4 linked regions of the Homo sapiens genome follow. The protein of the gene in region 3 interacts with the protein of the main gene of each other region in a pairwise test. Each region holds a gene or a part of one and is shown on either strand. Other genes may lie near its edges.

Region 1 (7,023 bases), on a different chromosome or scaffold from region 3:
CTTTGTTTCCCAGGCTAGGAGAATTCTATTAACAAAATACAACATAAAAATCACATAGCTAGCCCGGGCATGATGGCTCACGCCTGTAATCCCAGCACTTTGGGAGGCCAAGGCGGGTGGATCACCTGAGGTCAGGAGTTCGAGACCAGCCTGGCCAACGTGGCGAAACCCTGTCTCTACTAAAAATAAAAAAATTAGCCAGGCCTGGTGGCGGGTGCCTGTAATCCCAGCTACTTAGGAGGGTGAGGCAGGAGAATCGCTTGAACCTGGGAGGCGGAGGTTGCAGTGAGCGGAGATTGTGCCACTGCACTCCAGCCTGGGCAACAAGAGCGAAACTCCATCTTAAAAAAGAAAAAAAAAAATCACATAGCTAAAAAGAAATATTCATGTCAGTGGATACTAAAAAAGAACAAATAACAATATATTGAGTTTATTGGTAAATGAAGTCCCACACCCACACCACACATATAGTAATGTAATCTTGTGAATATAGTTAACCAAAAAGCAAAATATGAAATAAAGTGTCATTAATTTGAAATTCCACGTAGGAATTAATTAATTCAGACAAAGCACAGTACTTATAAACAAATGTCTCAGTGGAAATTAATTTAATTTCCATTCGGGCGCAATGGCTCACGCTTGTAATCCCAGCATTTTGGGAGGCAGGCAGATCACTTGAGATCAGGAGTTTGAGAACAGCCTGGTCAACATGGTGAAACTCCGTCTCTACTAAAAATACAAAATTTAGCTGGGTTTCCAGAAGGTTTTTGATTTACTTTGCCCAGATCCATCAGAGGAATAACTATCTATAGTAGCTATAGATAGTAATAGTAAATGAGCATTGACTTCAACTTAAAGTCACCAGCTGCAATAGCCCCTAACAAGAAAGCCTGTCCTTTGAAGCTTTTTTTTCTTTTTCTTTTGGATGGAGTGCAGTGGTACAATCACAGCTCACTACAGCCTTGACATCCCAGACTCAAGTGATCCTCCCACCTCAGCCTTCCAAGTAGCTGGGACCACAGGTACACACTAAAATGCCCATCTAATTTTTAAATTTTTCGTAGAGACAGGTTCTTGCTATGTTGCCCAGGCTGGTCTTGAACTCCTGTGCTCAAGCAATCCTCCCACTTTGGTCTCCCAAAGTGCTGGGATTACACATGTGAGTCACTGTGACCAGCTCCTTTGAAGCCAGGTAATGACTTCTCCTTTCTACCTATGAAAGTCTGAGATGGTATCTTCTTCCAACAGAAGGCTGTTTCATCTGCACTGAAAATATGTTCTTTAGTGTACCCACTTTCATTTTCTGTAGCTTCTGCATCAGTACTTGCTGTTTCACTTTGGACTTTTGTTATGGAGAAGGTTTCTTTCCTTAAATCTCATGAACCAACCTCTGCTTTTTTTTTTTTTTTTTTTTTTAAGATGGTCTTGCTCTGTCACCCACCCAGGCTGGAGTGTGGTGGCACAATCACAGCTCCATTGCAGCCTCGACCTCTCTGGGCTCAAGCCAGCCTTCCTTCTCAGCCTCCCAAGCAGCTGGGACTATAGGTGTGCGCCACCACATCCGGCTAAATTTTTTTGTATTTTGTAGAGACAGCATTTCACCATGTTGCCCAGGTTGGTCTCAAACTCCTGGGTTCAACCAGTCCACCCACCTCGGCCTCCCAAAGTGCTGGGATTACAGGCGTGAGCCATTGCACCGAGCCAACATTTGATACTCTAAACTTCTTCTGCAGCTTCCTCACCTCTCAGCCTTCACAGAATTGAACAGAGTTAGGGCCTTGTTCTGGATTAGGCTTTAGTTTAAAGGAATGTTGTGGCTGATTTGATCTTCTACTCATACCACTCAAACTTTCTCCATATCAGCTTATCACTGGAATAGCACTTTTAATTTCCATTTATTTATTTGTTTGTTTGTTTGATGGAGTTTCGCTCTTGTTGCCCAAGGTGGAGTGCAATGGTGTGTTCTTGGTGCACTGCAACCTCCGCCTCCCGGGTTCAAGCAATTCTCCTGCCTCAGCCTCCCAAAGAGCTGGAATTACAGGTGTGCGCCACCATGCCCGGCTAATTTTGTATTTTTAGTAGAGATGGGGTTTCACCATGTTGGTCAGGCTGGTCTTGAATTCCTGACCTCATGTGATCCACCCGCCTCAGTCTCCCAAAAGTGCTGGGATTACAAGCGTGAGCCACCGCGCCTAACCCCATTTTTTTTCTTCATATTCACAATTTGGCATGACTTCACATGCCTTCCTCACTAAGCTTAATCATTTCTAGCTTTTGATTTAAAATGAGAGACTTGCAACTTTTTCTTTCACTTGAACACTTAAAGGCCATTGTTGGGTTATTAATTGGCCTGAGAAGGCAAGACTGAATGGCTAGTTGGTGGAAGTCAAAACACAGGCATGTATTGATTAAGTTTGCTATCTTCAATGGGTGCGGTTTGTGGCATCCCACAATTACAATAGTAACAGCAAAGATCACTGATCACAGATCAGTGTTAACAGACATAATGATGAAAAGGTTTTAAAAACTGCCAGAATTGGCCGGGCGCAGTGGCTGTAATCCCAGCACTCTGGGAGGCCGAGGGAGGCAGGTCATGAGGTCAGGAGATCAAGACCATCCTGGCTAACATGGTAAAACCCCATCTCTACTAAAACTACAAAAAAATTAGCCGGGTGTGGTGGCGGGCCCCTGTAAGTCCCAGCTACTCGGGAGGCTGAGGCAGGAGAATGGTGTGAACCCAGGAGGCTGAGCTTGCAGTGAGCCTAGATCACGCCACTGCACTCCAGCCTGGGTGACAGAGCGAGCCTCCGTCTCAAAATAAATAAATAATAAAAATAAAAACTGCCAGAATTACCAACATGTGACACAGAGACACAAAGTGAGCACATGCTGTTAGAAATGGTGTCAACAGACTTGCTCAACAAAAGCTTGTCACAAACCTTCAATTTGTTAAAAAAAAAAAAAAATGCAGTCCCTGGGCTGGGCGCAGTGGCTCACACCCGTAATCCCAGCACTATGGGAAGCCAAGGCAGGTGGATCATTTGAGGTCAGGAGTTCAGGACCAGCCTGGCAAACACGGCGAAACCCATCTCTAATAAAAATACAAAAATTAGCTGGGCGTGGTGGCACGCACCTGTAATCCCAGCTACTAGGGAGGCTGAGGCAGGAGAGTTGCTTGAACCCGGGATGTGGAGGTTGCAGTGAGCCAAGATCATGCCACTGCACTTCTGTCTGGGCAACAGAGCAAGACTCCGTCTCAAAAAAAAAAAAAAAAAATTGCATTACCTGGGCTGGGCATAGTGGCTCACACCTGTAATCCCAGCACTCTGGAAGGCCAAGGTGGGCAGATCACTTGAGGTCAGGAGTTCAGGACCAGCATGGCCAACATGGCAAAACCCTGTCTCTACTGAAAATACAAAAGTTAGCTGGGTGTGGTAGGGCACACCTGTCATCCCAGCTACTAGGGAGGCTAAGGCAGAAGAATTGCTTGAAGCCAGGGGGCAGAGGTTTCAGTGAGCCGAGATAATGCCACTGGACTCTAGCCTAGGTGACAGAGTGTGACTCCATCTCAAAAAAACAAACAAACAAAAAAGCAGTATCTGCAAGTGCAGTAAAACACAGTATATTTTATTGAATATTACTATAAAACAAGGAAAAGAAAATTGCAATAAGTTCAGATAGTGAGATTAATGATATAGCGGTGCCTCAGTGGCTAAACCATGGTTTATGATTTAAAAAAATTTATCCTAAGTTGACCACTGTAGAAGAAAAAAAGAACTTCATTCCCACACTTTGCCTCTGATCATGTGTATAGTCTGTGGCTCCTTATTGTTTTTTGTTTGTGATTTTTTGAGATGGAGTTTCGCTCATTCCCCAGGCTGGAGTGCAATGGCGTGATCTTGGCTTACCACAACCTCCGTCTCCTAGGTTCAAGTGATTCTCCTGACTCGGCCTCCCAAGTGAGTAGCTGGGATTACAGGCGTGCACCACCACGCTTGGCTAATTTTGTCTTTTACTAGACACGGGGTTTCCCCGTGTTGGCCAGGCTGGTCTCGAACTCCTGACCTCAGGTGATCTGCACACCTAGGCCTTCCAAAGTGCCGGCATTACAGGTGTGAGCCACCGTGCCCGGCCCCATGTTTTTAACAATCTTACCACAGTAGGTACTACGTCTCTAACCATCCGTGCTGAGCTGCTTTGGGTTGCCTTGCTCTGCCACTAAGGGTTAGCATCACCTAGCTTGCTGGGCCTTCCATCATTACATTGGATCATGGGCACTGGAGAATATTATAGGAGGAAAATACTTCCAATACACTACCAAATACAACTGTTTCTCCATATCCTTATCAGTAGAATGAGGTCAACTAGATTATGTTATTTTTTTGGTTATAACAGTCTGTGAATCTACAAGACAACAGGAAGTAATACCAAAGTGATGAAGAGTTGATTTACTGTATGTGATTTGTTTCAAAATACTCCAGGAATTAAAAAAAAAAAAAAGTGAAGAGTATAGAGGAAAATAATTGTCAAAATATTAATAACTGTTGAAACTGGGTACCTGGGGCTTATTATAGTGTTTGTGGTATGTTTAAATTTTTTTTTTTTCTGAGATGGAGTCTTCCTCTTGTCACCCAGGTTGGAGTGCAATGGTGTGATCTCGGCTCACTGCAACCTCCGCCTCCTGGGTTCAAGCGATTCTCCTGCCTCAGCCTCCCCAGTAGCAGGGATTACAGGCGCCCACCACCACGCCCAGCAAATTTTTGTATTAGTAGAGATGGGGTTTCGCTATGTCATCCAGGCTGGTGTTGAACTCCTGACCTCGTGATCCTCCCGCCTCGGCCTCCCAAAGTGCTGGGATTACAGGCGTGAGTCACTGTACCCAGCCAGAATTGGGATATATCTTTAAAAAGAAAAGAGGCTGGGCGCAGTGGCTCACGCCTGTAATCCCAACACTTTGGGAGGCTGAGGTGGGAGGATCACGAAGTCAGGAGATTAAGACCATCCTGGCCAACATGGTGAAACCCCGTCTCTACTAAAATACATAAAATTAGCCAGATGTGGTGGCATGCACCTGTAGTCCCAGTTACTCGGGAGGCTGAGGCAGGGGAATCACTTGAACCCGGGAGGCGGAGTTTGCAGTGAGCCAAGATCCTGCCACTGCACTTCAGCCTGGGCTACAGAGCAAGACTCCATCTCAAAAAAATAAAAAATAAAATAAAATAATTGAAAAGAAAGGCTGAGTGCAGTGGCTCATGCTTGTAATGCCAGCACTTTGGGAAGCAAAGGTGGGCAGATCACTTGAGTTCAGGAGTTCAAAACCAGCCTGGGCAACATGTTGAAACCCTATCTCTACAACAAATTAGCTGGGCATGGTGGTGCATGCCTTATAGTCCTAGCTACTTGGGAGGCTGAGGTGAAAGGATGGCTTGAGCCTGGGAGGCGGAGGTTGTTCTCCATCCTGGGTAAAAGAGCCAGACTCCATCTCAAAAAATAAATAAATAGAAAAAAGTTTCTTATAAAGATCCTTACCAAAATATTTATGGATGGAATGATGTAATTTCAGGTATCTGCTTCAAAACATTGTGGAGGATAGATATTTTGTTTTGTTTTAGAGATGAAGTCTCGCTATGTTGCTCATGATGGTCTTGAACTCCTGGGTTCAAGTGATCCTCCCACCTTGGCCTCCAAAAGTGTTGGGATTACAGGCGTGAGCCAGCATGATAAGCCAACTATGATTTTAGATGAAACAAGATTGGCCAAGAGTTGATAAGTGCTCTAGTTTAGTGACAGGTAGACAGAGGTTCATTATATTCTTCTCTCGGGTTTGAATTTGCCATAACAATTAGAAAAAAATGTACTTCACTTATAATACAAACAAAATTCCATTTAAATATGCTGTTGAGCACAACAAAAGCTCAGGGTAAAAAAGCTATTTCTAAGTGTCAACATACTATAATAATCCTTTTTAAAATTAGTTACAATAAATCCTCTACCAGTAAGAGAACAATAAAATGTAGACGGAAGTAACCTTGTATCTGTCTACTTTATGACTTTGAATCTAAGAGGTTCATGCCAATTGTAGAATGTTTAAATAAATGTCGGAGGGAGTATATTTTAGGAGTATTCAAATATGACAGATTGAGAGGGATCAATTTATTTCACATGCCTCATTAAGAGTAAAGTTAAGGCCTGGTGCGGTGGCTCACACCTGTAATCCCAGCACTTTGGGAGGCTGAGGCAGGTGGATCACAAGGTCAGAAGTTCGAGACCAGCATGGCCAACATGGTGAAACCCCGTCTCTACTAAAAATATAAAAATACAAAAATTAGCCAGGCATAGTGGCGTGCGCCTGGAATCCCAGCTACTCGGGAGGCTGAGGTAGGAGAATAGCTTGAACCCGGGAGGCGGAGGTTGCAGCGAGCCAAGATCCCGCCACTGTGCTCCAGCCTGGGTCAGAGCAAGACTCCATCTCAAAAAAAAAAAAAAAAAAAAAAAAAAAAGAATAAAAAGAACCCGAGTCTGCTGTCTCTAAAATTTATGCTCTTTTAGCTGCATCATTAATCATCCTCTTAATTCATTCTCTGACCCCATCTAGGTAATGAACCTACACTTAGAAAAAAATCAAGTTGTCTTGAGCTGTGCCATTTCATAACCCTCTTCGTAAGTCCCATATAGCTCATCTTACTCCACAAATACAGAAACACATGGGGCTTTCCCTCTAGTTTTTTTTTTTTTTTTTTTTCAGACGGAGTCTCGATCTGTCGTCCAGGCTGGAGTGTAGTGGTGCGATCTTGGCTCACTGCAACCTCTGCTTCCCAGGTTCAAGCCATTCTCCTGCCTCAGCCTCCCAAGTAGCTGGGACTATAGGCGCTTGCCACCTCGCCCCCCTAATTTTTGTACTTTTAGTAGAGACGTGGTTTCACCATACTGGCCAGGCTGGTCCCGAACTCCCGACCTTGTGATCTGCCTGCCTTGGCCTCCCAAAGTGCTGGGATTATAGGTGTAAGCCACTGCACCTGGCCT
Region 2 (7,023 bases), on a different chromosome or scaffold from region 3:
ACCCACCTGCGGACCCTCCGCCCCAGGCTGGGGACAGCAGCCACCTCTCAGGCTGCTACGGACAAGAGCTGAGAGGACAGAGCGGGCCGGATGGTACCCAGCAGGCCTACCTTGGAGAGGCGGTGAGGAAGAAGCCATCGAAGAGGCTGCTGCAGAAGTCCTCAAGGGCAAATTCGTCGGCCAGCAGCGCAAGGTTGCCCGTGAGCAGGTGGAGGAAGATGTCGCCAAAGGCCAAGTCGCCAAAGGTCTCCACTGCAGACACAGCAGGCATCAGCCCAGTGCCACTCACCCTGCCCACCCCAGAGGGCACCCTTGTCCTCAAAGACCTCAGAACCTACTTCTGGGGGTGCTCACATGAGAGTTCTCAGTTGTTCTGAGATGAGAAGCACAGGGTCTCAGCAGGTGAAGAGGGGGGTGGGAAGTGGACAGAGGCAGGCAGGGGGTGGGACCTGTGGCAGGGAAGCAGAGCTGCAGCCCAGGGACAGGAGGGTGGAGGGAGGGGGAGACAGCCCAGGGACAGGAGGAGGGTGGAGGGAGGGGGAGACAGCCCGGGGACAGGAGGAGGGTGGAGGAAGAAGGAGACAGAAAAACGAGGTGCTCCTCCAGTCCCAAAAGGCCTTGCCCAGCAGCCGAGCCCAGGAGAAACAAGCCTAACAAATACAGGGCCGGCGCCAGCTGCAGAGAGTTCTCCCTGACTGCCAGCTACACTGAACCACAGGAAAGAGAACGAAACTCTTCCACATTCTTTTCTGAAGCCAGACACCAAAACACAACAAAGACAGCATTCGTGCCCACAGACGCCTCACGTGCGACCACAGCACAGAAGCCACGGTGTTGGCAGACATTTGCCAAGAGCCAGCACAACGCCCCAAACGGGGCCCCTGCAGGGAGGGAGGGCGGCCGCCTGCAGACTGATGCCTGAAGGAGCTGTGGCCAGGCCACATGGAGGTGACGTGTGCGGACAGGTTGAGGATGGCCTTCCTAGTATCCCGGATGGGGCCTTTATGAGGACAACCCAGCTGGCGCCACCTGCGCCCAGAGTGACAGAAACATTTCCAGGAGACCCAGGCCCCCGAGGTGCCTGCCTGCCACATCTCACAGGGCCTTGGCCGGCCACATGGCCAGGTGGCCACGGGACACGTGGCAGGCACACAGTCCCGACCAGGGGATCCAGCAGCAAGGCCCCACTGGGCAAATGCCCTGATTCCTGCAACTCCGGGGAACCCAAGACTGCGAGACAGGAGAGGGGACAGCAGGCGCATCCCAACCCTGACGGGACCGTCCACACAGCAGGCAGGAGACACCTGGAGAAGCGCAGCCACTGTCAGGCAGTCAGTCGGCAGAGGAGCGGCAGTGAACCTGGCTCAGATGTGACAGTGGCCCGTGGTCCGTGGTCACTGGTTTTTATTTTTTTTGAGAAGAGTCTCACTCTGTTAGCCAGGCTGGAGTGCAGCGGTGCAATCTCAGCTCACTGCAACCTCCACCTCCCGGGTTCAAGCGATCCTTCTGCCTCAGCCTCCCTCAGCTGGGATTACACGCGTGCGCCACCGCGCCGGGCTAATTTTTCTATTTTTAGTAGAGATGGGGTTTCGCCACATTGGCCAGGCTGGTCTGGAACTCCTGACCTCAGGTGATCCGCCCGCCTCGGCCTCCCAAAGCGCTGGGATTACAAGGTGAGCCACCATGCCTGGCCAGTTTTTTAAAGGCATTTAAAGACAGTCTTATTTTTTATTTGTTTTTTTTGAGACGGAGTCTCGCTCTGTCACCCAGGCTGGAGTGCAGTGGTGCAATCTCGGCTCACTGCAACCTCTGCCTCCTGGGTTCAAGCGATTCTCCTGCCTCACCCTCCCGAGTAGCTGGGACTACAGGCATGCGTCACACACGCGGCTAATTTCTGTATTTTTAATAGAGATGGGATTCCACCATGTTGGCCAGGCTGGTCTGGAACTCCTGACCTCAGGTGATCCACCCGCCTTGGCCTCCCAAAGTGCTAGGATTACAGGCATGAGCCACCAAGCCCGGCTCCCCGCCCTTTTTTTTTTTTTTTTTTTTGAGACGGAGTCTGGCTTTGTCGCCCAGGCTGGAGGGCAGTGCCGTGATCTCGATTCACTGCAACCTCTGCCTCCCAGGTTCAAGCGATTCTCCTGTAAACGCATCCTTCTTTTGTAGAGATGCCTACGTCTGCAGCCTGCATGCTGTGATGTCTCAGATTTACACCCAGACATCGTGCTGAGGGACAGGCGGCCACACGCAGACCCCACGTGGACCCCGGGGAGGTTGGAGATGGTGCTGGGTCCTCACCGTACCATGCTCTTGACTTCGTATTCTTTCACAAATTCCCACCACAAAATGTTAAAAAATAAACAGGAGAGAATTCTAAAAATCAACATCCATTCTTACTAGAACCCGCTAAAAACTTAAGAACACGCGTGCTCTCCCCAAATGTGACTGAAAATGCACATCCCACCCCGTGGGGCAGCCACGTACTCCGAGAAGCTGCACTCCTGGTTCCCAGCCTGTTTCTAGCCACAATCAAATGAGAGAAAGAAACAGAAGCGCACGGAAGGCCTCCCAGGTGAGTCTGTCATTGTGCGAACTCCACAGTGACTGACACAAATCCAGAAGGTGCCACCCACTGCACACTGGGCTGGGCCATGGCCTCATGCCCCTGAGCTAGACACCTGCACAGCACATGGCTGTACTGAGTACTGAAGGCTGCTGGGACACAATGGCAACTGTGTATCTAAATAGAGAAAGTGGAGTAAAAATACAGTATTGTCAGCTTATGTGACCGCGTGGTCGTATATGTGGTCCACGGTAGACAGAATGTTATGTGACACGTGACTGTACTGCAGTGGGCAGGCCAAGGCAAATTAAAGTTATTTATAACTATGTTCCCGGAAGTCTCAAAAAATAAACAAACCGGCTCTGCCCGGCGGCCGGCAGCACGATGTCCCAATGCCCTCAAGAGCCTCCCTGAGCCTCCAGAAGGAGCGGCAGTGTTGGCACCCGCAGAAGCCCAGGAGGTCATGTCTGCCTGCGCTGTCTAATGCCACTGTCTGTGGTCATTCGTTCCAGCAACAACAGGAAACCCAGGCCCAGGCAACCCAAGCTCAGTGAGAGGATGGCTGGGGACAGGTTAATACCCACAGGTAACTTCCTCCACAAAGAAAGCTGGAAAACGCATGCACGCGCCATCCTCAAACACACCAGCCACCGAGAAACACAATAGGCACGTGCTGTGGTGTGGACGTGTCCCCAAGTTCACCATCGGAAACCTGATCCCCAACGCAACACTGCTGAGGTCGTGAGGGCTCCGTCCTCACCAAAGCGTTCTCGCTGTTAGCACAGGAGTGGCTCCTGATAAAAGGGTAAGTGTGGCCCCTTCTCTGTCTCCGTCTGTCTGTGTCTCATCTCTAGCTCTGTCTCTCATCTGTCTCTGTCCTGTGTCTCTCATCTGTCTGTCTCCATGTCTCTCCTGTCTCTGTCTCTCTTACCTGTCTCTCATCTCTCTGTGTCTCATCTCTGTCTCTGTGTCTCTCATCTTTGTCTCTCATCTTGGTCTGTGTGTCTCTGTCTCTCATCTCTGTCTGTGTCTGTCTGTCTCCCCTGCCCGTGCTCTCTTGCCCTCTGCCTTCCACCATGGGATGACACAGCAAAAAGCCCCAGCCAGATGCAGGCCCCTTGACCTCGGACTTCCCATCCCAGCCCGCAGAACTGGGAGAAGTCCCTGCTCTTTGTTTTTTTGAGACGGAGTCTCGCTCTGTCGCCTGGGCTGGAGTGCAATAGTGCAATCTCCACTCACTGCAACCTCCACCTCCCAGGTTCAAGGGATTCTCCTGCTTCAGCCTCCCAAGTAGCTGAGATTACAGGCACCCACCACCATGCCCAACCAATTTTTGTATTTTTTTAGTAGAGACAGGGTTTCACCATGTTGGCCAGACTGGTCTCGAACTCCTGACCTCGTGATCCGCCCGCCTCAGCCTCCCAAAGCACTGGGATTACAGGCCTGAGCCACCGTGCCCGGCCGTCCCTGCCCTTTCTACACTACTCAGTCTCAAGTCTCTGTTAGAGCAGCATAACGTGGACTAAGACAGCAAACCCCAGACAAGGCCTGAGTCAGCAAGGAAGAGCCCAGGGTCTGTGTCACAGTGGGTACCGCAAGGCTAAAGAGGCCCCATCTCCCATGGGACCCACAGCAGGCTAAAGAGGCCCCATCTCCCAGGGGACCTGCAGCTCTACTCTTGAAGGTGCCCATTTGGACCCTTCCTCTTCTTCCTGGCTTGCAACAACCCCTCCCCCGTCAAGGCCCCCAGGAGGAAGTGGGCCTGTCACCACCTGGGGTGGGGCACTGGGGCAGGGGATCTCTCTCCCTCCCCTTTGCTCCATTCTCTGAGCACCTGAGGGGTCCCAAGCCCCTCGCCAGTTAGGATGAAATAAAGACAGCTCTTACATCACCTTTTTGTGGGAAAGCACAAAGTTGAACTCCCTCTCCCTTTCCTAGTAAAATAAACTACAAACAAAAGTAAAAGTGAAAACGAGGCTGGGAGTGGTGGCTCACACCTGTCATCCCAACACTTTGGGAGGCCGAGGCGGGCGGATCATGAAGTCAGGAGTTCGAGACCAGCCCAACCAACATGGAGAAACCCCGTCTCTACTAAAAATACAAAAATTAGCCTGGCACGGTGGCACGCGCCTGTAATCCCAGCTACTCAGGAGGGTGAGGCACGAGAAATCACTTGAACCTAGGAGGCAGAGGCTGCAGTGAGCTGAGGTTGCACCACTGCACTCCAGCCTGGGCGACAGAGCAAGACTCCATCTCAAAAAAAAAAAAAAAAAAAAGGTGAAAACAAAGCTAGCAAAGTTGGAGGTGGGCTGGGGAGACAAGGCAGCTCCTGGGGGCCCTGGGGCCCGCACCCTGGGCAGGACTGCATACGGCAGCTGCCGCAGGGAAGACACAGCCAGGCACCGCCCGTCAGGACTTACCCAGCCCGGGCAGCAGGCGGAGGAGCGCGTTCTTGTTCCTCTGCTTGGTGATGTGCAGGACGTAGTACAGCCCCACCTCGCAGGCCATGCGCTGCTCCTGCAGAAACCTGCGCCCGGGGCGCCATCAGCCCCACCTCAGCCCCACCTCAGCCCCACCTCAGCCCCACACCGACCCCTGCCCAGCCCTGAGGCAGCCCCCTGGGCAACAGTGCCATCCCTGCGCCACGGCCACCCCTGCACCATGGCCCTACAGCCCGTACTTAGTGAAGCTTTCGGGAAGTGTGTTTGGATATGAGACTGGGGCTTTCTCCTCAGCCGGAAGTTTCTGATCCACATTGAAAGTGTAGTCATCCACCAGGAAGGACATGAGCATCGGGAGGAACCTGGTGATGAGCTCTACCTCCTACGAGGAGGGGAGGCCATGAGCGGGCGCGGGCCCGGGCCCTGCCCCACCCCACCCTGACGTGACACACACCCTGCCCCTGGCCCTCCCACTCCCCCAGATACCTCACCGACCCTCCCTCCTCTCCAGGTCCCCAGGTCCCTCTTCCCACCTCCCGAGTCCCCCACCCAGGCCATCTCCTCAAACCCCCTTCTAGGTCTGGACCCACATGGAGTAGTCACCACCTGTGGCCAGCCATGGTCCATGGAGACACCCCCAGAACAAGCCACGGTCCACGGAGACACCCCAGAACCAGCCACGGGCCATGGAGATACCCCAGAACCAGCCAGGGTCCACGGAGACACCCCAGAACCTCCCTGGTGGGCATTTTCCCAAAAGGAAGGTGGGCAGCTCCAGGAAGGAAGCTTTGGGACCAAAGGGGCCTCCACAATCACCTTGCTAGCGCCTCCCCCTCCACCCCACTTCCAGCCCACAACCCCTCGTAGGAAACTGGCAGCCCCCACAGGAGGCTCGTTACCATCTTGGGCTCCTTGAAGACCTGGCTGTCGATCATGTCCCAGGCTCCCTGGCCCAGCGCCAGCAGCCGGAGCAGCAGCAGGAGGTCGGGGCTGTCCTGTAGGGAGGACGGGCTCAGCGCCTCTCCCAGGCAGCTGTGTCCTGGCCATGGAGCTCCTCTGACCCTACTCGTTACTCAGCAGGATCTCTGGTGCCCATGGCCAGGACCACACGACTGCGATCACCAGCCCCACACACGGGGTGAAACGCAGTCTCACAGCGGGGAAGCACACGCCTCTACCTGGGCCACTGCAGTCCACATCCCCGACCACCAGAGCAGCCAGCAGGGCGGCCACAGGGCCCCAACAGCTGCCTCCACCTGGCCGCTGCTGTCCACACCCTGACCACCCAGAGCAGCCAGCGGAGTGGCCGCATGGCCCCGACAGCTGCTGGCCAAGCCCACACTCACCCTGGGCAGTGTCTCCTGGCCGACCAGCTCCTGCAGGTGCCTGACTGTGCTCAGTGCCAGCGTGTTGATGGCGAAGGGGTCACACAGGATCATGGACAGGTCCCTGGAAGGAGGCCGCCCTGGCATTAATGCGACGCCTGTTGCCCCTCCCTTCAGCGGCACAGTCCTCAGGAGGGGTGGCCTAGGCTGAATTCAGGACTGGCAGCGGGTGCCCATCACATGCTGGGTTTCTTACAAAAAGCTTAAGGATGGCCGAGCGCGGCGGCTCAGCCTGTCATCCCAGCACTTTGGCAGGCCGGGCGCGGCGGCTCAGCCTGTCATCCCAGCACTTTGGCAGGCCGAGGCGGATGGATCACCAGGTCAGGAGACTGAGACCAGCCTGGCTAACAAAGTGAAACCCTGTCTCTACCAAAAATACAAAAAATTAGCCGGGCGTGGTGGTGGTCGCCTGTGGTCCCAGCTACTCGGGAGGCTGAGGCAGGAGAATCACTTGAACCCGGGAGGCAGAGCTTGCAGTGAGCCAGGATCGCGTCACTGCACTCCAGCCTGGGCAAGAGAGCGAGACTCTGTCTCAAAAAAAAAAAAAAAAAAAGCTTAAGGTTTGCAATTTGTCCTTAACCTATTCAAAGATTTTTCAAATTAAAAAGTTAAAAAAACAAACAAAAAAAAG
Region 3 (7,608 bases):
AGTACATTATTACTCAGCACCTTTGAGCTTTTCCTATTACAGACATGGGGATTTGGGAGGGAAAAAAAAGCCCAACAAAGTCTCTGTGTTCAAGACACATTTATTTCAGCAAACAGCAAGCAGACATCCACCAGGCAAACAAAACAACAAATACATTAAAGATCATCATTTCTTACTAATTGGTTACCACTTCATCCCTTTCTTAAACTTTCATTAGCATTCCATAGTCTGAGGCTGCCACAAATTAATCATCTTCTAATTTGTGGGCGTGAATTAATCCAATTAACTCAGTTGATATTTCAAAGAAATGTTACACTGAACACTGATATCTGCGCTTATTCACAGCGGAGCAAGTATTTTCCCAGGATAAGTCTCTTACAATAAAACATTGAGGCCAGGCACGGTGGCTCACACCTGTAATCCCAGCATTTTGGGAGGCCAAGGTGCGCGGATCACTTGAGGTCAGGAGTTCAAGACCAGCCTGGCCAACATGGTGAAACCCCATCTCTACTAAAAATAAAATAAAAATTAAATAAAAATTTAAAAATTAGCCAGATGTGGTGGCAGGCGCCTGTAGTCCCAGCTACTCGGAAGGCAGGAGAATCACTTGAACCCAGGAGGCAGAGGTTGCAGTGAGCCGATATCTGCATTAAAGTGCAGAGCCACTGCACTTTAGTCTGGGTGACAGATCGAGACTCGGTCTCAATAAATAAATAAATAAAATAAGAAAATTGGCCAGGCATGGTGGCTCACACCTGTAATCCCAGAACTTTGGGAGGCTGAGGCGGGTGGATCACCTGAGGTCAGGAGTTCAAGACCAGCCTGGACAACACAGTGAAACCCCGTCTCTACTAAAAATACAAAAATTAGCCAGACATCATGGTGGGTGCCTGTAATCCCAGCTACTCAGGAGGCTGAGGCAGGAGAATTGCTTGAACCTGGGAGGCGGAGGTTGCAGTGAGCTGAGATCGCGCCATTGCACTCCAGCCTGGGCAAGAAGAGTGAAATTCCATCTCAAAACAAATAAAGAAAATAAAATAAAATAAGAAAATTACCCGGACATGGTGGTACTTGCCTGTAGTCCCACCTACTCAGGAGGCTGAGGTTGCAGGATCGCTTAAACCCCAGAGTTCGAGGTTGCAGTGAGTTTCGATTGACTCCACTGCACTCCAATCTGGGCAACAGAGCAAGACCCTGTCTCAAAAAAAATCATTGAGTCAAAGGGTACTATACACATTTCATCCTTTAATAGATGTCACAGAGTCAATTTCAAAAAAAAACCTCCAAAAATATTTTACCAACCTACACTTCATCAATGGCAAGAGAAAACCACATTCTCTGGGTCTACACTTGATCCATCTCTTTGATCTTGGCCAATCCACAGGGCAATATGCTGAGTTTTGCATTAATTTATATTTTTTATTGATATGTCATCCACGTAATATAAAAGTACCCACTTAAAGTATACAATTCAGGGCTGGGTGCCATGGTTCATGCCTGTAATCCCAGCACTTTGAGAAGCTAAGGAGAGCGAATTACTTGAGGCCAGGAGTTCGAGACTAGCCTGGCTAACATGGTGAAACCCCATCTCTACTAAAAATAGAAAAAATTTTTTACTGGGTGTGGTAACACACACCTGTAATCCCAGCTACTCAGGAGGCTGAGGCATGAGAATCACTTGAACCCAGGAGGCAGAGCTGAGATCAATCCACTGCACTGCAGCCTGGGCAACAGAGACTCTGTCTCAAAACAAATACATAAATAAATTTAATTAAATAAAGTATACAATTCAGGCCGGGCACGCTGGTTCACGCCTGTAATATCAGTACTTTGGGAGGCAAGGTGGGCTGGTTGTTTAAACTCAGGAGTTCGAGACGAGACTGGGCAACACGGCAAAACAAAAAGAAAAGAATAATCATAAAGTACAAAATGAAATGGTTTTGGCCGGGCGCGGTGTTTCACACCTGTAATCCCAGCACTTTGGGAGGCCGAGATGGGTGGATCACTTGAGGTCAGGCATTCGAGGCCAGCCTGGCCAACATGGTGAAACCCATTCTCTACTAAAAATACAAAAAGTTAGCTGGGCGTGGTGGTGCATGCCTGTAATCCCAGCTACTTGGGCGACTGAGGCAGGAGTATCACTTGAACCCGGGAGATGGAGGTTGCAGCAAGCCGAGATCACACCACTACTGCACTCCAGCCTGGGTGACAGGGCAAGACGCCATCTCAAAAAAAAAAAATTAAATCGTCTTTAGTCTGTTTGCAGAGTTGTGCCTCCTTCACTACAGTCAATTTTAGAACATTTTTCACCGTCCCCAATAGCTATCTCCATAGCTATTCCCAGTTGGTCCCAATTTTCCCTTCTCCCCAACCCGTAGCAACCACTAATCTGCTTTCTGTCTCTATGGATTTGCCTATTCTGGACACTTTGTATAAATAGAATCGTATATGTGCTTTTGAGTCTGGCGTCTTTCACTCGGCATCATGTTGGCAAGGTTCATCCATGTTGTAGCACGTATCAGAGCTTTATTCCTTTTCATGGTTGAGTAATATCCCATTGTGTAAATATATGACATTTTGGGTTTCTATTTTTTGTGGGTTTTTTTGGGGGATGTTGTTTTGTTTTTTGAGGCAGAGTCTCCCTCTGTCACCCAGGCTGGAGTTCAGTGGCACCATCTCAGCTCCCTGCAACCTCTGCCTCCCGGGTTCAAGTGATTCTCCTACCTCAGCCTAACAAGTAGCTGGGATTACAGGCTCCCGCCACCATGCTTGGCTAATTTTTTGTATTTTTAGTAGAGACGGATTTTCACCATGTCGACCAAGCTGGCCTCAAACTCCTGACCTCAAGTGATTCGTCCACCTCAGCCTCCCAAAGTGCTGGGATTACAGGCGTGAGCCACCGTGCCCAGCCACTTTTATTTATTTTGAGATGGAGTCTCACTCTGTTGCCCAGGCTGGAGTACAGTGGCACAATCTCCACTCCCTGTAGCCTCCGCCTCCCGGGTTCAACCAATTCCCCCGCCTCAGCCTCCCAAGTAGCTGAAATTCAGGTGCTGGCCACCACGCCCAGCTAATTTTTGTATTTTTAGTAGACAGGGTTTCGCCATGTTGGCCAGGCTGGTCTTAAACTCCTGACCTCAGGTGATCTGCCTGCCTCAGCCTCCCAAAGTGCTGGGATTACAGGCGTGAGCCACCGCGCCTGGCCATGCAGCATTTTATTTATCCATGCATCAGTGGATCGATGTTTTCAGCATTTTCTCCTTTTGGGCGATAGTGAATCATGCTGCCGTGAACTTGCTTATATTTAAATGTCTATTTTCACAAAATAGTACCAGTGAGCTTGTTCATCTGTTTATGTCTTTATTGACCAAATAAATAGCCATGGTGCAAAATCTCTGTGGTCACTACTGTGTTCCCAGCATGTCCTGTAGATGAAGCCGGACAATGTGTGCGATGAGGAATCATTGCTGGGGATGCTGCTTTCTACAGCAGAACTCTAAGTAGCAGGTGAAAACAATGAGCGAGGCCCGTGGTAACAATGTCTACGTTTTATTGAATTTTGAAATTGATTGCATGAGTCATTTCTAGTTCCCTGCACCATGAGCCTTGTCAATCTCTCTAATCCCTGAACCCACGTGGGTCCTGCCATGGGGAAATGAGGACAGCCAGGTGTCTGACAGAGAAGACGCATCTCTGAGGGATCCGATCTCTGTAGACCAAGGTCATGGGTCCCCTGTATCATCAGCAGTAGGTTCATTCACTCACAAGGGCAGACCAGCAGCGGTCCATGGGCACGTCCATCAGACCTGTGCCCCCTCCTGATACAGGTCTATGCAGCTTGGAGAGGCTGGGCTCATGTGAACCCAGCACACGAGCCCCGTATATAAACTGGAATAAACCAGCACTGAGGTCATTTACTCTCCAGGAGAAACCAACAGAGGTCTATGTGAATGCCTATCAGAACTTCACCCCATAGGCAAATCCACTACAGAAACCAAACCATTATCAGCAGGGCCAATGTGTACTAAGCTCTGCTTACACCTATAGGCACCTAGGGAGCAATTTTTGGAATGGATAGTAGGGGCCAGAGTGGCCTTGAGGTACCAAAGAGGAGGTTGCAAGGTCATCCAGGAAGGAGGGATAGTGGCTGGACAAGGCAGGCAGCCCAGGAGCCAGGAGGAGTGGGTAGACTCACCGGCATTGGTCACTCGGGGCCCCAGCCCTGGGAAGGAACAAGGATGACTCCTGGGGGCTGGCTGGCGGTGCCTCTCCTGAGATGGGGACCCCAACCACAGGTCACGATGTTGACTCCCCCAACCAAACCCGCATGGAATGCCACCTCACCTGGGCTAGGGCCCATGAGGGTGAAACCAAGGCTGTGTTGTCCACTGAGGTTCTCCAGCTCCTAGCACAGCTCAGCAGGCAGTACCTGATCAGTGATGAAGGATTAATCCATCATTCAACTCCTCCAGGGGGCGGGACTGCAGGGCAGGGTGGGAAAGGGAGGGTCCCGGCAGGGTGGGCCAGGGTGGGCACAGCAGAGAAGTGATTTAAGAGCCAAGCCCTTGTCAGTACACACTTGTGTTTGGGAACAGATCAGGACTCAGGATGCAAGACCCTGGTCATCTCCAAGGTGAGCGGGGACAGAGGTGTGAGGGGTCTGGGCTGATCCTGTGGCTGAGGCTGCAGAGTGCAAATCTGGGCAGCCAGAGAAGGGCTGGGCCTGTGCGGGCGGCTTCCTGTCCTGCAGACGGGGGAGAACTTAGTGGTGTCTGGGAAATGAAAAATCATGCAGCTGGGTGTAGCGTCTCACGCCTGTGATCCCAGCTCTTTGGGAAGCCAAGGTGGGAGGATCACTTGAGCCCGGGACTCTGAAACCAGCCGAGCCAACATAGTGGAGACCCGTCTTTAGCAAAAATACAAAAATTACCCAGGGGTCGTGGTGCACACCTGTGGTCCCAGCTACTCGGGAGACTAAGGCGGGGGGTTCCTTGAGCCCAGGAAGTGGAGGCTGACTTGAGCCGTGATCACATCACTGCACTCCAGCCTGGGTGACAGAGCGAGATCCCCTCCAAGAAAAAGAAAGAAGGAAAGAAATTAAACCATGCAGTTGAGTGGAGCAGAGGACTGGGCAGGTGGCGGCTCCCCTGCAAGTGTCAGGGTCCCTATAACCCTTGGATGGGAGGGGACGGGGCAGCTGGGGAGGGTTGAGCAGGCCTGAGGCAGCCCCGTCTGCTCCGAGGTGAGGCGCCTACGCTGCCTGCCTTCCCAGGAGCTGTTATCGCGCCTATTTCCTAGATGTGGACCCTGAGGCCCAGAGAGGTGCAAGGTCTGGTCTGGATACCAGGCTGCTATCCGCGGTGCCGCCCCAGCCCACACTGCCTGGGCTCCTGGCCTGGTGCAGGGGACGGGGTCCCTAGGGGGGCTGGGGGCTGCCTGGGGGTTTCTGTGACCTGTTTCCCTCCCACCCCCAGGCCCTCCCCTGGCCCTGGACCCTCCAAGGAGACAGCGGCAGGAGCGCACGGTCTACACTGAAAGCCAGCAGAAAGTGCTAGAATTTTACTTTCAGAAGGACCAGTACCCGAACTACGACCAGCGACTGAATCTGGCGGAGATGCTCAGCCTCAGGGAGCAACAGCTGCAGGTCTGACCCCCACCCCCACCCTGCCCGCCCCAGTCACCCCAAGGAGCCTCCCCACCGCTGTCACTCACCGGGGCCTGGCCCGCCCGACCACCTCCCGCCCTGCCACGCAAGGGGTCCCGCCAGTGTAGACCAGGGCTGCATCCTGAGTCCTGTTCCAACTCTATGCTAGCCCAAACTCGCCCACATGATCGGCCCAGGCTGTCCCCCACGGGGTCTCCCGGTGCCCGGACCTCAGGCACCCGTGAGAACCCGCGGTCCCTCCCCTCGAACCCTCCCTGGCCCCCCGGGCACCTGGGCGGCAGACCCCGCTCCTCCCATCCCACCCCACCCTCCTCCCCCTACTTTTCCCTCCCTCTTCCCTCCATTCTCCAGGCCTTGGAGCCGGGGCCCTCTTTTGGTGGGGTGGGGGATGGGGGGCTGTTGAGCACAGGGAGAGGCTTCAGGCTGGCCCCGACCCCAAAAGGCTCACTGGGCCGCGCGAGCCCCTCCTTCACACCTTCTCCCTGTCCCCTCTGCCCCCCAGGTGTGGTTCAAGAATCGCCGCGCCAAACTAGCTCGGGAGCGGCGGCTCCAGCAGCAGCCCCAGCGCGTCCCTGGGCAGAGAGGCCGAGGAGCCCGCGCTGCGCCCCTAGTCCCTGCAGCCTCTGCCTCCGCACCTCAGCGGGGCCCCTCGGGAATCCTTCCAGCGGCGGAACCCACGATCTGCAGCCTCCACCAGGCCTGGGGTGGCCCTGGGTGCAGAGCCCAGAAGGGCATCCCAGCTGCCCTGAGTCCAGGCCCTGGCCCGATCCCTGCCCCAATCCCAGGCCCAGCCCAGATCCCAGGCCCACTCCCTGGCTCAATTCCAGGCCCAATTCCAGGCCCAGCTCAGATCCCAAGCCCGATCCCAGCCCCAATCCCAGGCCCAATTTCAGGCCCAGTCCAGATCCCAGGCCCATTCCGTGGCCCAATCCCAGGCCCAATTTCAGGCCCAGCCCCGATCCCAGGCCCAATCTCAGGCCCATTCTCAGGCCCAAACCCAGGCCCGATCCCAGGCCCAAACCCAGGCCCGATCCCAGGCCCAATCTCAGGCCCGATCCCAGGCCCAATCTCAGTCCCGATCCCAGGCCCGATCCCAGGCCCAATCTCAGGCCCAATCTCAGGCCCAAACCCAGGCCCGATCCCAGGCCCAATCCCAGGCCCAATCTCAGGCCCGAACCCAGGCCCGATCCCAGGCCCAATCTCAGGCCCGAACCCAGGCCTGATCCCAGGCCCAATCCCAGGCCCAATCTCAGGCCCAGGCCCAATTATAGGCCCGATTCCCAGCCCAGCCCAGATCCCAGGCCCAGGCAGACTCCAAGGCCCAGGTCCCATCTTAAGTCCTGGCCGGATGCGAAGCCCTGGCTCACTTCCAGGCCTAGCCCCGATTTTAGGCCCAGGCTCAGGCCCAGGCTCAGGCTCAGTCCCAGCTCCAATCCCAGGCCCAGGATCACTCCCAGCCCCAGCCCCCTTATGGCCTCAGAGCCCCGATGCCTCCGACTTCTTGCCAGACACCCAGTTATTCCCTCACTTCACAGAGCTGCTCCTACCCCTAGACCCCTTGGAGGGATCCTCAGTCTCCACCATGACCTCTCAGTACCAAGAAGGGGATGACTCTATGGGCAAAAAACACTCAGGGTCTCAGCCCCAAGAGGAGGGTGGCTCTGTGAATGAAAATCACTCAGGCCCCAGGTTATTACTGGATTTATAGGGGGCCTGTGCCTGCAAAGTTCTTCAGATCCCAGAGGGCCTGGAGTGGCTGATCTACACTGCTGGTGACTTTCTGCAGTGAATGCATCACCCTTTACCCACCCTGCTGCAGGTGGACATTTGCTGTCTTCACTGTGCAGCTATCACAGGTGGCTCTGCTGTGAATGTGCCTGCCTGTCATTTGAATTGAGCCTGAGCGTTTCTCTGCTGGGATTGGAGTCGCTGCTCACTGGGAT
Region 4 (6,961 bases), on a different chromosome or scaffold from region 3:
CTGCACCTAGGAAGAACAGCTTGTTGGTCTCCTTTATAAAAGTTGAGTAGCTAGAAGCCTCATTCAGTGTCTCCCATCCAAATGACTGAAAGAAGATGCAATTGAAATAGTGGAGTCTCTCGTCTGGCTTGGGCAGCATAAATGCTGTGCATAAAACACTTGGAGTAGTTCAGGCACAAGACAAACCCACCTGAATGGACGAGGAACACTGTCTGTTGCCATGGCAGCCTGATCTAATTACATGAGTGATCAGGACTGGAGTAAGTGCACCGAAAACCTACACCACTGACAGGCAGCCAGGAGGTTCAGGGGAGCCCTTCAACCTCTGCTTTATGTAGAAGATGGCATTCAAGTCCATTTATTTGCGGAGCTGCTAAAATATTGACTGATGCATGCACAGTGAGAGGGCAATCAGAGGAGATTAAATGCCACAGCGCTAGCCGTTATGGTGCAATCCCTTTCCAAGAGTTCCTGTGCAGGATTTTCTCTTCTCTCTGGTGGTTTCCTCAGACATAAGCTTCACTCCAAAAAAAGCTCAAGTATCAAACTACCTTTACCCATCAAATAAACCGAAGGGTGGGCTTAAGGGGGGCTTCTAGGAACTGCAGCCTCCTAAAAAACCCAAACAGAAATGTCTCAGCTAACACTGTTGAAAAAGTAACTAGCTGTGCCTAAAAATAACCAAGTAACTACCCACTGCTGTGTGCAATATATAACAATGATGTTTAAATATTAAAAACAGCCTGCATTATAAAACACAAATGTCATTGAGATGTGACTACTAGATTGCCAAAGGAGAACTTATTTGCATACACACATTCCCGTGCATGCACGACAGGATGTGCAGGGAGAAAGCCACTGTAAGGCATTAGTTTTTATTCTGTGGGTGTAATAGGGTCTTCTAATTTTGCTAATTGTATCCTGTGGATCTCGCAGGGAAGCTAAGAATCTCTTCGGGGACAGAACCAGTTTGGAGGAGTCCCTACTGCACAGCATACGGTAAACAAAATAAAAATAGCTTGCCTTTCTTGTTAGCCACATCGCGCATTATATAACCAGCTTCTTCCGACTGTTTTTTTTTTTTTTTTTTTTTTTTTTTTGCCCTTACTACTCTTCAGCAATTTCCCTCTTCTCAAATATTTATATTACCCTTTTATCTGTAGGATTATATACCAAGAAAGCAAAACAAAACAGAGCAGCCACGGGCTCGAACCGAATCCCCGCCGTCCTTAGAAACGGATTTTTTTTTGTTTTGTTTTGTTTTCTGGCAGAGTCTCGATCACCACCCTACTTCCACCCCCACTAAGGTTCTTGCTCAATCTCCCTAGAAAACCTGAATTGTTTCATCCCTTTCAGTCAGCCCCCTACGTGGTCTGAAACAAAATGAAAGCACAAGCCACGGAGTTTAAGAAGGCAGCCTGAAGGCGGGGGGCTGAAGAGGGGTCGGGGCGCTGCAGAGTCAGCCAAGTAGCCAAGGAAGGGCCCCCTCCGCGTCGCGACGGCCCTCGCCCCCCGCCCGGCGCGCGCGCGCACAAATACACACACACAGTCACTCACACACTCACTCACACTCACGCCGCGCTCCGACACCGCCTCACCTCTCGCTCCGCCCGTCCGGCCCCCTTCCCTGCCCCCTGCGGGACCGGCCTGCGCGCAGCACTGGAACCACGTAGGAGGAGGCGGCGGCGCCCCCGGGAGTGGCAGAGTCTCCGGCCCGGCCCAGAGTGAACGAGCAGTGGGGCTCCAGGGCGCATCCCAATCCCCGCAGCGCCTCCTCCGCGGCGGCCGCCGCCTCCTCCTCCTTCCCCTCCTCCTGGCTTCATTCACCCTCCCAGCAGCCGCGCAGCCGTTCACTCCCGGCTCAGGGCAGCGCCTGCCGCGGCTCCTCGTCTCCTGCCGCGGGTGCTGGCGGGGGCGCCGGCCCGGACTGGGGCGCTCGCGGGCTCCCGGCTCCGGGCGGCGGCTGCCGCTGCACATGATCAGGAAGCGGCCGCACCAACAGGGCGGCGGTGGCGGCGGCGGCCAGGGCCGTCACCGCCACTCCAGCCGCGCTCCAGGCACCCGCACACCCGCTACCCCCGCGCGGTCCCCGAGGCCACCCCTCTGCGCCCCCCGCCCGGCACCCGGCCGCGCGCAAAGTCCCGTCCCGGCTGCAGGAGCAGTCCCTTCCCCGCCCGCAGCCGCACACCCGGCGAGGCCGGCCCTCCGAGGGGAGACCCCCGCCCCAGGGCGCCGAGGCCGGGCGACCACCCGCGGAGAAGTCCAGCCCTCCGTGAGACCCCCTCTCTCTCACCGCCCTCTCCGGGGAGGAGGAATGGGAAGAGGGCGGCCGGGAAAGGGACCACCCCCCAACCCCAGCCGCCGCCTCCCCCCTGCGCCACCCGGAGGGAGGAGGACATGGCTCTCCGCACTTGCGACCGGACCAGCAGCCGGGGGAGCGGGGCGCCGCCGCCGCTCTCCCCGCCCGCGCCCCCCGCCCGGGCGCGCCCCCTAGCCCGGCGGGCGCCCACCCAGCCCCTGACAGCCCCCCCGCCGGCCGCCCCTGCGCCCAGAGTGGGGGTGTCGGCCCGGGAGCCTGGAGCCGGGGACGGTTGTATGTACACACATACACACACACACACACACACACGCACACACACAGAACACGACGCGTCGATTTCCTTCGCTCCTCTTCCAGCTGTTTTCCGTGCAGCCGATTGGGGTTTTGGGTTTGTTTGCTGGTTGTTGCTTTTGCCCCTCTCGGGAGATCGGGGGAGGAGGGATTTTAATCTAAATAAGGGGAGAAGGGAATGGGGGAGGGGGGAAAGAATCGGAGGAGGAAAAAAAAATAGTCACTTACTGTAAAGTGTAAATGGATCTGGGGTTGCGTGGGGAAGGGGGGGCAGAGGGAGAGAAACAATGTCTTGCGGCTGCTGTTGCTCTGGCTGCTGCTCCACGGGGCTTGTTTTGGATCCCCCTGCAGTGAAACAGGTCCTGTACGGCTCCGCCACTGTAGTAGAAATGATGTCTGCGGTATACTCTGCTCTCTCCTCCTCCTCCTCCTCCTCCTCCTCCCCCTCCTCCCGCTCCCCTCCCCTCCCTCCTCCCTCCGCCCGCCCGCCCTCCCTCCCTCCCTCGCGCTCTCTCGCGCTCGCTCGCTCGCTCGCTCCAGTATGTAAATGTGTAATAGAAGCCAAATATGGAGCAGTTGGCTGCCGCCGCCGCAGCTCAAGGATCCGACTTCATGGGGGTGGGGGGCACCCTCTGGCGGGCGGCCCGGCGAGCCGCACAGAGCACGGCGAGCGCACCGCGCGGCGGCCGGCCCGCGCCCTTAACCCTTCGCTGCGCGCCGCCCGGGGAGGCGGGCACCTTTCCCAAAGAGTGGCTCGGGATGGGGTGCGGGGGAGGGGAGACGCGGACCGGAGGGCAAGGTTCCTTCCAGGTTTGGGAAGGGGGCGGGGAGCTGGGCGATGAGGTAATTTGAGCGGTGACGGGTCGGTCCTCGCGCGCCTCCCTGGGTCCCTGCACCTAGTTGGAGGGGACTGAACGACAACGGGGCGCTACTCAGGCAACCTGGGGGACTCCCCCAAGGGCTGTCAGGCTTCAGCTGGGAGCCGATGCAACACCCCAGCGGGGAGGGGAGGTCGGCCCATTCTAATCCCGACGTGTCCTTGGTCCCAGGCGCTCGGAGCAGCATCTGAGAGGGCTCACTCTGATCATCAGCTGCACGTTAAGCCACAAACCGGCGTCGCTTCGGCGTTCCGGAACCCAGGCCTGGGGGCCGCGGGGATTGCCTCTGCGTGCAACTCCGGAAAGTTTCAAGGGGTCCCCCGACTGCACAGGTACCCTCACCTTTCCTGCCGGCGAACGCTGGCGACCGCCCGACCCTGCCCTCTTTCTCTCTTCGCACGCAGGTCCGGAAATCGGCTTTGATATGGAACTACTCCGCTCTAGCCTGGAAAGGAGACCCGCGCACTCCTCTCGCAGCTAATTTCGGATCATTAATTTAATCGGAAATGAGGTAACCAGTGTAGGAGACAGAGAAAGCAACCGGAGCATCAAATGGCAGTTCTCGAGAATCGACGAGGAACTTAAATCTGGACTCAGGGTTTCAGTGCGGTCTCCGACTCCCACCACCCCGCCCCTCCGCCTGTCTCGCCGCCAGGTGTGACCTCCACGCGAAGGAATCTTCTTCGGATGGGTGCACCTTGCCAACAGGTGTGGCACCTGGAGGACTAGGAGGCGCCTCCAGACTAAGGGCGCTCAGTGCGGCGTTCTTGTTGCAGATGATTCTGGAAGGCCGGTAGGTGTCGGGCGACATTTGACCTTCTTCAGGTGCTTAGAACTAAGTGTCTGGAAACATGATCCTTTCGCGTAAGTTTCTTTCTGAAAGCCACCAATCTTGACTGTAAGCTGTATTTGAGAGATCTTTTGGCTGAGTTTACTTATGACCTAACGGTTAGTCACCAACTGAGGCAGGGCACAGGATGACCAAAAAAAAAGTGTCAGTTTTTACACAACTCTGGCCTGCAAGAGCCTACGTGCTTCATAAATAAAAATAAACATACGAGCGAGGAAGGTGCAGAGCCCCGGAAATATTTTTTTCTCACATTTTTGAAATACCATGCACATATATGTGGCTATTTAAGTATAACTACTAGTGTTCACTCTTACTCATTTCTACAACTTTTTTTTTTCCATTTAAAAATCGATTATTGTTACGGTTTAAACCTCGGGTTGGTCTAAAGTGACATTGTTGGTCTCATTACAGCCTCTAGTGGACAGTTAACATCAGTTTCCTGAAAAGGCTCTGACTGGTTTTGTTTTCGTTGACAAGCTTTGTCAAGGTGAAGGTTAGTACGTAAGAGCATAACCGGGTAAAATGTCCCCTCACCCCTATCCTCACCCCCGCCCCCAACACCCTGCTTGGCAAAGACGACTTCAGAAAGGAGCAGAAGCTTGTTGGCTTTATATAGAAAAGACGTATGCTTTGTGCTGCAGGTATTATTATTACTGGACTGTGAATAAACAGAAAGCTTCTGCTATTCATTTCAGTTTCAGACAGCTTTCATAAAAACTAAATTCATCTCAAATATTTTTATAACAGAAAATATTGGTTGCCATGTTTTTGGCTTAACTGCGATGTTTTTATTCCAACTCATAATCTGCAAACTGTCCAATCCACCTCCACTCTATTTTTAGACATCTTACATTTAGATAATTTTCAGTTAAAAAAAAGCTAATATTGTAATTTTACGTTGGCACAAGCAGTTAATTTACGTGATTTTAACAACCTTAAATTAAAACACATAATTCAGATTACAGTTAGTCAATTAATTTAAATGTTCTCTCAAGGAAGCTAAATATGTATATTACCCAAATGGTAAAAACAATTAATAAGAAATGTGTCATTTACTTTCTTAGCCATTAAGTTTAAAGCCATAAACTGCCACCAAAATCTGTAACTATTTCTTCCTGCAAGATCCAACATAAACACCATACTCATGAAACTGTCTCATTACCTTTAGTACTGAAATATTTTGTTTTCAGATGGCAAAATATTAAGTGTACAATCACAAATAACAGGCACTGATTCTTTAGAAACAAGACTTTCTCGTGCAAATAAAAACTCAATGAAAAAGGGCAGAGCTTCCAAGAAGCTAGTAGACAAATATATAGTACTATAGTCCTACTCATAAGGCTGGTGTTATGTTTGTAAAAGCATAAGTCAACCTTTGAAATTACAGGAAATCGATAAATAAGGCCTGATGAGCTTGACTCGTATCCTGTGTCATAGATTGCTTAAATACCATGAAAAATAATTGTAATCACATATCTATTTTACTGTTTTGGTGGTATCTACTCTTGAAGGTGTTAAATGGGCCAGCAAGTATATATTATATAATTACATATTACACCCTTACTTAAAGTGTAGTTTTCAAAGTCGCCACAGCAGCACTTGGGAGCTTTTTAGACATTCAGAGTCAAGGGTTCTACCCCAGACATACCAAATCAGAATCTGCCTTTGAACCAGGCCCCTGGGTGATTTCTAAACACATTATCATGTGAAGAACACTGGTCTATACCACAGGGATCAACCTAAATAAATTTGGGCACAAGTGCAGAAGTTAATTCCTCTATTTATTTCTTTTTTGCTCCTTTTTAGTAAGTACAGCCCTTATTAATTTGTGCTTTTCAATGAAAAATTATTATGTTATATGCTTTGGATAAATACTACTGCACTGTAAGTGCACACATCTGCATCATTATTGCCAAAAAAGAATGCTCTGCTGAGGAATGTACTGGGGTCTTGAACATGAACATTTTCTTCATGGCAGCAGAGGGAGCACAAGAGTGCTTAATAAAACCAGTGCACAGGTCTCTCCAAATCATGACAGATTTTACATTGTAGTATATGTTTTCATTGGAAGTAGCCTGTTATGTAGTTCAAAATGAAGCAAATCAACTGAGCAAACACAGATAGGCTTACCAGGTCATAACAACTATGTAACTGAACAGATTGAAAGTTGAATAAAATAAAGATAAACTTCTTTAGAGTTTTAGGCTTGAATTCTTAAAAGAAAGTGGACCTCAAAAGTGAAAAAGATGCCTTAGCTTTGCTCAAAAACAAAGATAACACAACACAGAATCAGGCAACCCTAAGATGCCTTAGCTTTACTCAAAAACAAAGATAACACAGAATCAGGCAACCCTAATAGTAGCTCCTGTTTATCTAAAAACAGAGTCAGTTCACTGGACCCTACATCAGGTAACTTAATTTCATTTGGTGTCATACATGTTGGTTAAGGTCCATGCGCCTTTTGCTGTGTTTACACTCAGAATAATTTTAGGGGTTTCTCCTTAATGCTTGCAGTGGTGAGGATTTAGGTTTCAGTTATACCTACGTAGTATTTCATACTTTTCACTACTCTTCCATATTGCATCCTCAAAAACTCCCTTGAAGCAGATAACATACTTGGTA

What was found.
Region 1: the proteins of TPRX1 (region 3) and OIP5 interact in binary tests that used the Homo sapiens proteins (3 or more experiments, as listed by UniProt).
Region 2: the proteins of TPRX1 (region 3) and NELFB interact in binary tests that used the Homo sapiens proteins (3 or more experiments, as listed by UniProt).
Region 4: the proteins of TPRX1 (region 3) and ATXN1 interact in binary tests that used the Homo sapiens proteins (3 or more experiments, as listed by UniProt).

Annotation. Positions count from the first base shown.
Region 1 is NC_000015.10:41,322,592-41,329,614, forward strand, and holds part of OIP5 (protein Mis18-beta), read right to left. Parts: intron 1-7,023. UniProt on the Homo sapiens protein: Required for recruitment of CENPA to centromeres and normal chromosome segregation during mitosis.
Region 2 is NC_000009.12:137,265,310-137,272,332, reverse strand, and holds part of NELFB (negative elongation factor B), read right to left. Parts: intron 6,457-7,023; coding exon 6,354-6,456; intron 6,003-6,353; coding exon 5,907-6,002; intron 5,390-5,906; coding exon 5,247-5,389; intron 5,094-5,246; coding exon 4,987-5,093; intron 253-4,986; coding exon 111-252; intron 1-110. UniProt on the Homo sapiens protein: Essential component of the NELF complex, a complex that negatively regulates the elongation of transcription by RNA polymerase II.
Region 3 is NC_000019.10:47,801,540-47,809,147, reverse strand, and holds the start of TPRX1 (tetra-peptide repeat homeobox protein 1), read left to right. Parts: upstream 1-4,596; 5' UTR 4,597-4,608; coding exon 4,609-4,633; intron 4,634-5,474; coding exon 5,475-5,644; intron 5,645-6,167; coding exon 6,168-7,373; 3' UTR 7,374-7,608. UniProt on the Homo sapiens protein: Transcription factor expressed after fertilization required for zygotic genome activation (ZGA), a critical event in early embryonic development during which the developmental control passes from maternally provided mRNAs to the expression of the zygotic genome after fertilization.
Region 4 is NC_000006.12:16,758,459-16,765,419, forward strand, and holds the start of ATXN1 (ataxin-1), read right to left. Parts: upstream 3,003-6,961; 5' UTR 2,840-3,002; intron 2,709-2,839; exon of another isoform or gene 2,680-2,708; intron 1,727-2,679; exon of another isoform or gene 1,599-1,726; intron 1-1,598. UniProt on the Homo sapiens protein: Chromatin-binding factor that repress Notch signaling in the absence of Notch intracellular domain by acting as a CBF1 corepressor. Binds to the HEY promoter and might assist, along with NCOR2, RBPJ-mediated repression. Binds RNA in vitro.